Regions from separate parts of the Homo sapiens genome. Here region 2 is linked to region 1. Evidence: fine-mapped expression QTL. A gene starts in region 1. The other region holds a variant in brackets. All regions are shown on one strand. Distances are between the middles of the regions.

Evidence for each region. PIP is the estimated chance that this variant, and not a neighbour inherited with it, causes the effect. A credible set is the group of variants that fine-mapping cannot tell apart.
Region 2: its variant is the best candidate, but not a certain one, in a credible set for the expression of FCRL6 in subcutaneous fat (GTEx, PIP 0.83).

What each region holds. Positions count from the first base shown.
Region 1 is chr1:159,799,494-159,804,877 of GRCh38, reverse strand. It overlaps FCRL6 (Fc receptor like 6), which reads right to left and starts at 2,518. Exons shown (of 10, transcript NM_001004310.3): 1 at 2,423-2,518. The coding sequence starts at 2,453. LOC105371464 (a long non-coding RNA gene) reads left to right here. Exons shown (of 3, transcript XR_922195.2): 1 at 1-2,340; 2 at 2,731-2,930; 3 at 4,316-4,397.
Region 2 is chr1:159,769,664-159,775,047 of GRCh38, reverse strand. No RefSeq gene overlaps it. Among named protein-coding and RNA genes, the nearest start is that of DUSP23, 8.6 kb to the left of the region's middle. The variant T/C (reference allele first, on the strand shown) is at 2,499.

The DNA of each region.
Region 1 (5,384 bases):
AGAGTGACAGAGACCTTACTCTGTAGTTATGTCTTCCTTCCCTTCCCCACCTCACTGGAAAACAATTGTGCAGCTACAAAGTGCTAAACAAACAGGGTTGAGACTACTGAAGCCAAAAACAAGACAGAAGGCACTCAGGAAGCATAGATGCACTTAAAATGAGCTCCTGTCCCCAAATCTCAATGACTTGCTCCCCATGGTACTGCAAGATCTTGGAGGTGGGATTACAAAATTGGTTTCTGCAATCAAAACAGCAGCCAACTGGGAACATACACAGGGGGTGACACCTGCTTACAGCAGTTCCTGCAATGAGGGCCCAGGGACCTCCATTAGCTATAGGCTGAAGATGAGGTGACAGTATCATGAAGTGGCCAAGAGCTATGGTCAAACCAAGTTGCGTAATAGAATTCCGAAAAATGAAGGCAGGAGCCCCTGCCAACTCTAGGAGCAGGATAATTTCCTCTTAAAGTTTCTGAGGGATCGGGAGATATTTATCTGGGAAAGATGCAACAGAGGAAAGACACAAAATACTTGGTGGGCTAAGCTTAAAAGAAGGGGGAGACTTATTCTGAGTTACTTTATAGGACAGAAATGGAAACTAGAGGGATCATGGAGGCAGATTTCGGCTCAACATGAAGAACTCTCTCACCACTGAGCTCTAGCACTGTGGAACAGGCTGCAGTGCCAAGCTGCAGCAGTCACATTGCTGGGAGGGCTGTATGGGACCCCATGACACCTCCTATGGACGCTGTGTGAGAATGCGGGGAGCAGCCTCCAGTGGTAGGAGGGAAGTTGGCTAATGTTCAGCTCAGAAGAAAATTAAGCCTAATTTCCCAAACTTTAAATACATATTTCACATTCAGCCAGGTCCCCACATGCTCAATGTCAGGATTCCTTTCCTCCCGGAGCCCTGACAGCCAATAATAGTAATAGCCACCAATTTATTATGACCACACCCTGCTCTTGAGAGAGGAAATAGCAGCTCTACACTTATGGTAAGATAAATGTTGCTACACACCCAGCCCCAGTGTCTGTGTTTTAGGCTGTTTTTCCAGGGTCCCTGAGCATCAAGTGGGACCAAATTTGCTGGTGCTGGATTCTCCATTACACTGTGCACCAGTCAGCCGGTCACTGATTCCCTTCCTCTCCTCATTTGCTGTCTGTCATCCTCGTCCTGGGTTCCAAGCTGGAACACTCTCAGACTGTATCTAGACAAGTCCAAGGGCTGTTCCTTTTACAAGGTAGTGCCGGTAGTGCCATTTGCCCCTGGGAGTCTTCTGCCTGGAGTATATCCAGGCATTAGGCTATCCTGTCCCCGCCTCAGTGTGAGCATTAGACCTTTTCATTTGTCCAAATGGCCATTCATAGAACACACGAGTAGCATGCTATGCTGGAGAAGGAACATTGAGTGGAAGGGGCATTTTCCTCACAGGGTCAAATTCTCACAAACTCTGTCCAGGAAGAGGTTATATTTAGGAACAGTTTTGCTTTTCTAGTTCAAGGAATACAAATAGCAAGCAAGCTATTGGGACCAAGAATTAAACAAAAAGTAGGTCCACTTGGAAACTGTAAAGTGAAACAAAATATATGCCAAATTATTTCTTTTAGGTATAAGGGGGGTGACACTGGCTGAGACTGAGCTGGGTCTGGGGGAGCCCAGTGACCCTCTGCGTGCAATCCTCTACCCTTAGACCAGCTCTCTTAGTTACAAGTAGCCTGCATGAGAAGAAATGGAGAGAAGAGAGAGAGAGACATGGATCAGACAATGGAGTTGATTCTTCAAACCAGCCCCATGGATCTGAAACAGCTCCCAACAGAGAGAAGATGTAGGCGGAAGAGAGACAGTCAATTTGAAAAGGGCTTTGGTTACTCAGAGCACAGGCCTTTCAACCAGGTGAGAGGTCTGGCCATTGTTACCTGGTTCTAAGAAAATGCTGAGGCTCCATAAAAATATGTCACCCTGTAAAATTCCACCTCCCATTGCTGAGCAAAATGCCTGGGACTGTTTCCCCTCATTTCCCTGACTCCTTCCCTGTTGCCCCCAGCAGCCTCCTTCCCTCCTGCAACCTCCATTTCCTTTTGAGACAGCTCTGATTAGTATTTTAACCTGATGTCACAAGGTAGAAATGTCATTGGGAAGTTAGGGGACTTTGTAATGTGATTTTCTGCCTCCCTAATTTATCTCTGACATATCAAAGGGCTGCGCTGCCAAGGACCCAGGACTACGGGGTAGGAAACACTGAGGAGTTTCTCCTACCCCAGTGCCCATCTCTCCCAAGCATGCCCAGGTGCACACACCTGTCTTGAGCTCCAGCCACAAACCCACTGGAATTGGGAAAGGTAAGATGAGGAACTTGGTGTCTCAGGGATGACTTACGGTCCTTAGTGCTCCAAGAGGGGATGCCCATGCTCGTTGACTTACCAAAGAGCAGCACAGCCGTCCAGAGCAGCATGGGGCCTGTTCTGGCACAGCGGAGGGAACACAGGTCAGAAACAGGTCAGGGCGAAGCCGGCAGAGAGCAACCAGGCCTCAGGACCGAAGGTGGGTGGGTGGCCTGAGCTGGGTGGTGCTATAGCTTGATAGCCAAAATAGGAAGTGGAAAAGAAACTTACAAAGCTCTAATTGATATTTCCTCTTTGGTTGAAGAAGTATTACATGAATAAATTTTCCTGAACACTAAGTATGAAGGAGTCGGTAAATCACTAATAAATCCCTGACATTTTCTGCAGCTTCAACAAGCCTATGCCAGGGAACTAGGATGGAACATGGTTATGGGACACCTCCATTAGAAAGGTCCAGAGACTGCCCGAATTTGCTTGGCTTCAGCGTCATTCAGCCTGGGAGACAGCGCAGCACTGTAAAACTAAGATCATCTACCCCTTGACCACCGAGTGACCTCCCAGCTTCCAAGGAGCTCCTGTCTCCAGAGGTAAATGTGTGTGGATGCTGCAATGCGATGGAGAAGTGGAGCCCTGAGGATGCTTCACAGGATCCTCAGTTCAGGAGGGAATCAGACATCGATGAGTCTGGAGTAGAACACAGATGGAGCTTCGGCATCTGAGGCTTTTAAGACTGTCAGTATGATTTTGAGAACTATTCCTTAAAAGACACCATTAAGAGAAGGAACAGGCAAGCTGTGGTGTGATGAGATAGTTTAAATACATGTAGCTGACAAAGGGCCCACAGAAGAAATATAAGAATTTCTGCAAGTCAGTAAGAAAAGGACAGACAACATACTAGAAAAATGGGCAAAAATAATTGGATAGGTACTTCACAGAAGCAGATATCCACGTGTCAAATCAACATAGCAAAAGGAGCTAGACATCATAAATCACCGTGGAAATGCAAATTTAAACCATAATAAGATACCACTACACCTTCCATAAGAATAAGGGAGTGATACCAGCTGAGACTGAGCTGGGTCTGGGGGAGCCCGTGACCCTCCCCATGCAATCCTCTACTGAGTATTGGTGAGGATGTGAAGAAACTAGAACTCTTGTACACCACTAGTGGGAATATAAATTGGTACAGTCACTAGAAAATGGCTTGGCAGAATCTACCAAAACTAAACACAGGGATCCCTGATGGCTCAGCATTTTCACTCCTGGGTAAATGTCAAACAGAAATGTATACATATAAGCCTGAAAAAACATATACAAGAGTGCTCATAGCAGCATCATTTGTAATAGATAAAAACTGGAAATTATTCAATGTTCCCTCAACAGAAAAAGAGGTCACACATTCTCATCTCCTCTGTGGACAGAACATGGGAGTTCACGGTGAAACACAGAGTCAGGCAAAATACTAGGAAGCATTTTCATTTTCTTGTTTCTTTTCTTTCTTTTTTCTTTTTTTTATTGAGAAGGAGTCTTGCTCTGTTGCCCAGGCTGGAGTGTAATCTTGGCTCACTGCAACCTCCGCCTCCCAGGTTCAAGTGATTTTCCTGCCTCAGCCTCCCATGTAGCTGGGATTACAGGCATGCACCACCATGCCTGGCTAAGCATTTTCTGACAGTAAAGTTCTTCCTGGAAATCTTTAAGTGAGAAGTTCTACATAGTCTGATGGAATTTGATGTGCCTATTGCTGAGGCCAGGAATGGACAGAGAGAATTTTCTAAGTTTTCTTGCCCTAGATTGTCTGACTCAGTGGAAGTGGGAAACTAATTTGACACTGCCAGGCATTTTTTTCGGTGACTCAGTTGTTTAGGAAAGAGGGAAAAGTAGTGAGGAAGTAAAGTAGGAAGTAGAAATCTTGTCCACTCACCTAAAGATGGCAACATTCATATATTTTCCTCTATCGTTCTCTTTCCAACAGATCTCCTGAGTTGTCTTCAACTTCGTTCAGCTGCAGGTCCTGTGGGTGTGTGGAGTCCCTGCAGGGCAGCAGCTGGGGCAGGAGACAGAGGGGATAACCGCAAGTGGTCTAGCTTGCAAACATTTGTGGTTTGCACACAGAACGGATGAAGCCTCTGCCCTGGCAACTTCTACCGGGTTCTAGCGGCATGAGAGTGTGAACTGCATCTGACTTTTCGCACTTCCCCTGCAGAGTGAGATGCTGTTGCACCTTCAAAGGTGTTGGTGAGCTGAGCCTGAGCTGAGCTGGCTGCATGTTGTTCCCTTGGGGATGAAGGTGACCCTCAGGGAACAGCAACAGGGCTGCTGCCCAGGTTTGGAATCTTCCAGGACTCAGGCTGACCTTGAACTGAGAATGGGATGGGTTAGTGGAGATATTAAAACCCATGATACTAACACTAATACTCTAAGGGAATTCAGGGGCTAAAAGGAGGTGGGATGAAAATAGAGTGTGGATCCTCATCCAGAAGAGGCTCCAGGCCCAGGTGCTCTCATCACTCAAAGAGTCAGTTGTCAGGGCGGCAGTAGTCAGGGACAATGGCCTTTGGGGAACAGGATAAGTCATTCCAGTTCCGGAGGCGAGACGGGAGAGCAAGAGAGCTTGGGGTAGGGGACAGCTCTGCATGGTAGGCCCTAGAGCCAAATATCTGAGCTTGAATCCTCACTCTGGATATGAATCTGGTGAGAGACCTTGGGTAAGTTTTTTAACCAGTCTGTGTCTCAGGGTCCTTATCTCTAAAGTGGATACATAATTACACCTGCATCATAGGGTTGCTATGAAGGTTAAACAAGATTAAAAACATAAGATGCTCTCAGACAGCAAGATCTAATAGAACTTTCAGTGATGATGAAATGTTTTCTGGGCTATCCAGTTCAGTGGCCACAGAGAGCTATTAAGCACTTGAAATTGACTCATGACACAGAGAAACTGAAGTTTTAATTGTTTTTACTTTAGTTGAAATTTAAAAAATTTAAGCAGCTACATGTGACAAGTGTCTGCCTTCTTGGATATTGCAGGCTTAGACCAATGC
Region 2 (5,384 bases), 30 kb after region 1:
CTCAAGGTGTGATCCACAGTTGATGTCACATGGGAGCCTGTGATAGATGCGGAATCTCAGGCCCCCCGACCTGTGAGATCCTCAGGTGGCTCATAAGCACACCTATGACTAAGAAGCCCTGGTGTAAGACTTGTTTGTCCTGCAGCTCTGTTTTTCCTTTGGTCATCGGCAGCATCCAGAAAGTGGTCTGGTCACAGAGGTAGTGAGTTGATCTCCAGGTGTCTCTTCTCTGGAGCTGAGAAGTTTTAGCTGAGCAGGGATATGGGTGGAGGAGCTGATCAGCAGAGGGAGAGGCCTCAAAGGGGCCTAACTGGCCTGGGTGAAAACTTGAGGTCAATTAGAACCACCTAAGAATCCTGGATTAGAACAACACATTGGCTTTATCTACGGGTTAGAAAGATGTCCAAGAAAAACAGGCTTAATGTACATGTACCTTTCCTGTTTTTTGTTCCAAGGAAGGGCTTGGTTTCCAGATTTCCTTTCTAGAGGAATGCTTGAAACATTGCTTCCTACTCTACCTACCTTTACGTTAGTTTCCAGGCAAGGCAAAAAGTGCCCCAGTCATTATCCTCCAATTTAAATGTCTCTAGCCTCCCTGTAGCTTAGGGGAAAGAAGGCACCATGGACAACCTTTTTTCACACAAGCCCTCCTTTCCCCTCTGTAGCAGACCTTCTTCCCACCCAAATCCCATCCCCCAAAACCTCCTTAGGACCCATCATCTCTGTGGATCCCTGGACTGGCCTCCTGTATTCCGGCCTCTACACATTTCCCCTCTGTGAACCTGCAGAGACTTTTACAGAGCATGGATGTTACTTTTCCAGTTCTTCAATAACTCCTTATTGTCTTCAAGAACAAACCCCCAAGATTTATAGACTGGTATATCAAGCCCTCCAGGATGAGGCCTCTTGCTTTTTCCTTCAGCCTCACCTTACCTCATTCCTCTGCAGAAGTGTTTGTCTTGTCACAATGAACAATGTGTAGTCAGTCAGAGGAGCAGAGCTCTCCTATGTGCCTGTGCCCATGCTGTGCCTTTTTCCTGCCCTGCTCTTACCTTTGGCCTGCAGCAACATCTCAACTTCCTTAAGTTTCACTTTGGGAAAAGAGACCACTTTCTCTAGGAAGCTTTCCCTGCTCCAATTCATGTTTTGTGTCCCTCTTCTGAGCTTCTGCAGCATGTGTATTAGAATATTTATGACATTATATATTAAACACATATTAAAGCTTTTATTGCTATATTATAATATGTTTATTGTAAAAGCATTAAAACACATACACATGCAAAATGTTAAAAATCATCACCTATTACCTATTTATATTAGTTGGTGTTTGATTAGGAAAGGAGAAGCCATTCTATGCTCTCCTAGTATGAAAGGAAGCAATATGAGAAATTCAAGGTTTACATACCTGGCAGGTGGGCTGAGTAGCAAAGGTACCAGATGATCTGAGCTGGTAACATCTAAATGAGATTCTCTTTAAGATCTTGCCTGGAAGCAATTCCACTGTAAGTCTCAGGAACTTCCGGGAAATTCCCACCAATGATCTCAGACTCCAGCACTCATGTGGGGGGATCCCAAGAAATTCACCTGGACGCTGTTTTCAGCCTCTCATCTGCCTCTGCACTTACCTATCTCTGGCAAACGATGGTCTCTCTTTTCGTTCCAGATCTTACACAGGTGCCTCTCATTGGCACTCAAGATCTATGGGAAGGATTTTGGAAATGTTGCTCCCAGGATCTCCTCTCTGGTGCAGAGAGCTTAGTCATGAATGGCATTCATATTAAGTTTACGAGGAACAAGTCACCTAAAGATAACCACATTTTGGTGTACCACCTTTCACGTGTATTTGTGTGTGTGTATAATGCACATATAAAACTCTCTTTTTAGTGTGCTCTATGTCTATATACATGTCTCCCCTCTGGCTCCTTCGAGGTTTAATGAGCTCTCTTCTCTACTTTGTAGAGTAGGATTCCCAGCACTGGTTTGATGACACCCTGGAGTGTCTTCATTTATCTCAGGGGGTGACTTGAAATTCACAAAACAAGATTAATTTAAATTCATTTTCATTTAAAAAAGTAAACAGACATTATATAGTAATTACAGGTACAAGTGTGTGTGTTGAAATCAAACTAATAAATGCTTGCCTTACAGAGAAATTAAGAGGATGGGGGTGGGGTTGGAAGGGACTACAAAGGTGGTTTAGTCTGAATCTTTCCTAAAACATTTCTCCCCACCAATGACTTCCAGGTTGGTGTTTCCCCAAAGTAATCATGTTTCTCAAATTGGAAGTCTGGGCTGTTGGGAATGAAAGCTCCCAGTATGTGGGTCTATCTTCTGTGTATACTATGAGCCTGACATACAGTACACCCTCAGGAAACACATTTGGATTGACTGTGTGTAAGGGTGGGACATGGTGGTGGTGACTAGGGAGGGCACGTGGCACATGAGAGTTCAAGCTTTGTGGGGTTGGAGGCCATGACATATCAGCACAGATAGTGGCC[T/C]GGGTAGAAATCCCATTTGGATTCTAGGATAATATAGTCTCCCCAACAATCAAGGAGACAATCTAGGCTGAGATGTCATTGATAATTGCCTTTCTATTAACAATTTGTGCAAAGCATCAGAAAGTCAGATAGGTCAACTAACATCGAAGCCTGTGAGTATCAGTGACTTCCTACTGAGGATACAGTCCCAAGGACACAGATGTAGGAAAAAATTCTGAATTCTGCTTGAGCCCAGCGTCTTTGAAGCAATAGAGTTGGTGGTGGGTTCAAATCCTGGCTCTGCCATTTGAAACTATTTAACCCCGAATAAATTGCTTTACACCTCAGTGCCCTTCTCTATAAAGTAGAAATAAATCATAATGCCTACCTCAGAGAATTGTGACGATTAAATGAGTTAATACTATAAAGTGCTTTGAACAATGCTTGGCACAGTGAGGGATCAATAAACACTGGCTATTGTTATCATCAGCATCACAATAGGCTGCACATACTTATCAGGACCAATTGGTAGCAGGAGTTTCAAATAGAGAATGCATTACTGGCCCCATCTGGTCCCAAAAAATAGGTTCAGGAACCCCTCCTGTCCCCTACGTTGGGGTAGGAACATCATTTGCTAGAACTGGAAACTTAGGCAGAGGGGTAGTTGTATTACAAGCAAGCAAATAGACAAAACAGAACAGAACAAAATAAAAAAACCACCACATGCAAATTGAGTTCTCAGTGAATCCCCTTGTTACACTTTGATGGGATATTCTGCTTCATGGGAAAAAATAGTGCAAACATACCTGGATTCTTAGACTCAAAATTGGTAGCAAGGGAAGAATGTGTCCTTTAGTGCAGAGTTTTATGGTCTATCAATCCTTGAAAGGAAGATATCATTAATCATTAGTCAGTTTCAAAATGTGCTCATCATTATCCACTACTGTTGATGAAAAACCTCAACCTCTTCTGGAGAAAATGACTGTTAGGAAAAGAACCTTTGAGGCCATTAAAACACAGCCATGATTCTCTTTATTTTAGTGAAAAACTAAATATACCTATATCCTCAGATGGGAAAGACAAATCAAGTCTAGCGTCTAATCTTAGCAAAATTCAAATACTGGGTTTGAAATGCCAGTAATTCTATTTAATTCTTTTTCTCTTGTGCAAATACGGAGGAATCTACATTGTGTGATTATTCAGATGTTCAAACAGTTATTTAGGATGAGAAAATTTGCAAATTCACATGGAATTTATTTCTGGAATAGCTATGACCATAACAGAGACAAGGTTGATGAGTCAGTCATTTATTTGAAAATTATGATACCCTAAATCCCTTTGGTCAGAAAACATATTTGATTCACAAGAATATGGAAAAATGGTGAGAAAATGTTTTTTAATGGTTAGCTTTGCTCTATAGTCTTTTGGCTTTCCAAAACTATAATAGTTTCAGCCTTTCTGGTCCTTGTGTTTCTAAAACTTTCTACCTCTTTAATTCAATTAAACAAACATGCCAATTAAGTCCAAGTGAACAAAATATTGGGCTATATACTTGACTAAAGATGCAGATAAAAGCATGAAACTTACATTTTGGTTTTGGAGCAGATTGTTATAGCAATGACCTGAATGGATTACACCTCCTAGTATCCACACCCTTATACATGCCTCTCCTACATTTGTACTGGACTCAGCCTTGTACTTGCTTTGGCTAACGTGATATAAACAAATGTGGGCCAGACGCGGTGGCTCATGCCTGTAATTTCAGCACTTTGGGAGGCCAAGGCAGGTGGATCACTTGAGATCAGGAGTTTGAGACTAGCCTGACCAACATGGTGAAACCCCATCTCTACTAAAAATACAAAATTAGCCGGGCGTGATGGCACATGCCTGTAATCCCAGCTACTTGGGAGGCTGAGGCAGGAGAATTGCTTGAAACCGGGAGGCAGAGGTTGCAGTGAGCCAAGACTGTACCACTGCTCTCCAGCCTGGGCAACAAGAGTGAAACTCCATCTCAAAAAATAAAATAAAATAAAATAAAATAAAATAAAATAAAATAAAATAAAATAAAATGAAATAAAATAAAACAAATGTGATAGAAGCAGAGGTATGATAAGCACTTGCATGTTGGGTCTTGTCATCTTGGAACCCTAAGACCTTTATGCTATAAAGAAGCCCTGAATTATATACCGTATGGTAGGAGAGGCCAGTTGAGCCCAGTCCCCAAGCTGGATGCAGCTGCATGAATGATCCTAGGTATGACCAGTAGAAGAGTGACCCAGCTAACTCACAGAATCATGAGAAATAGAAATTGCTGTTAAGCCACTAAATTTTGGGGTCATTTACTTCATAGGAATGGAAAACTGATCTATATCTATATCTATATCTATCTCTCTCTATATATGTGTGTGTGTATATATATATATATATATGGTCATTTACTTCATAGGAATGGAAAACTGATTTTATATATATATATATATATATATATATATATATATATATATATATATATATATATATTTTTTTTTTTTTTTTTTTTTTTTGAGATGGAGTCTTGCTGTGGCCCAGGCTGAGATAGTGGCGCGATCCCAGCTCACTGCAACCTCCACTCTCCAGATTCAAGTGATTATCCGATTATCCTGCCTCAGCCTCCTGAGTAGCTGGGATTACAGGCGTCTGCCACCATGACTGGCTAATTTTTGTATTTTTATTAGAGACAGGGTTTTGTCATGTTGGCCAGGCTGGTCTCGAACTCCTGATCTCAGGTGATCCGCCTGCCTCGGCCTCCCAAAGTTCTGGGATTACAGTCGTGAGCCAACGTGCCCGGCCAGATATAAAAATTTATACCCAGAAATGGTATGTTGCTGTAACAAAAAGCTAAACTATGTGGCATTGGCTTTGGGGTTG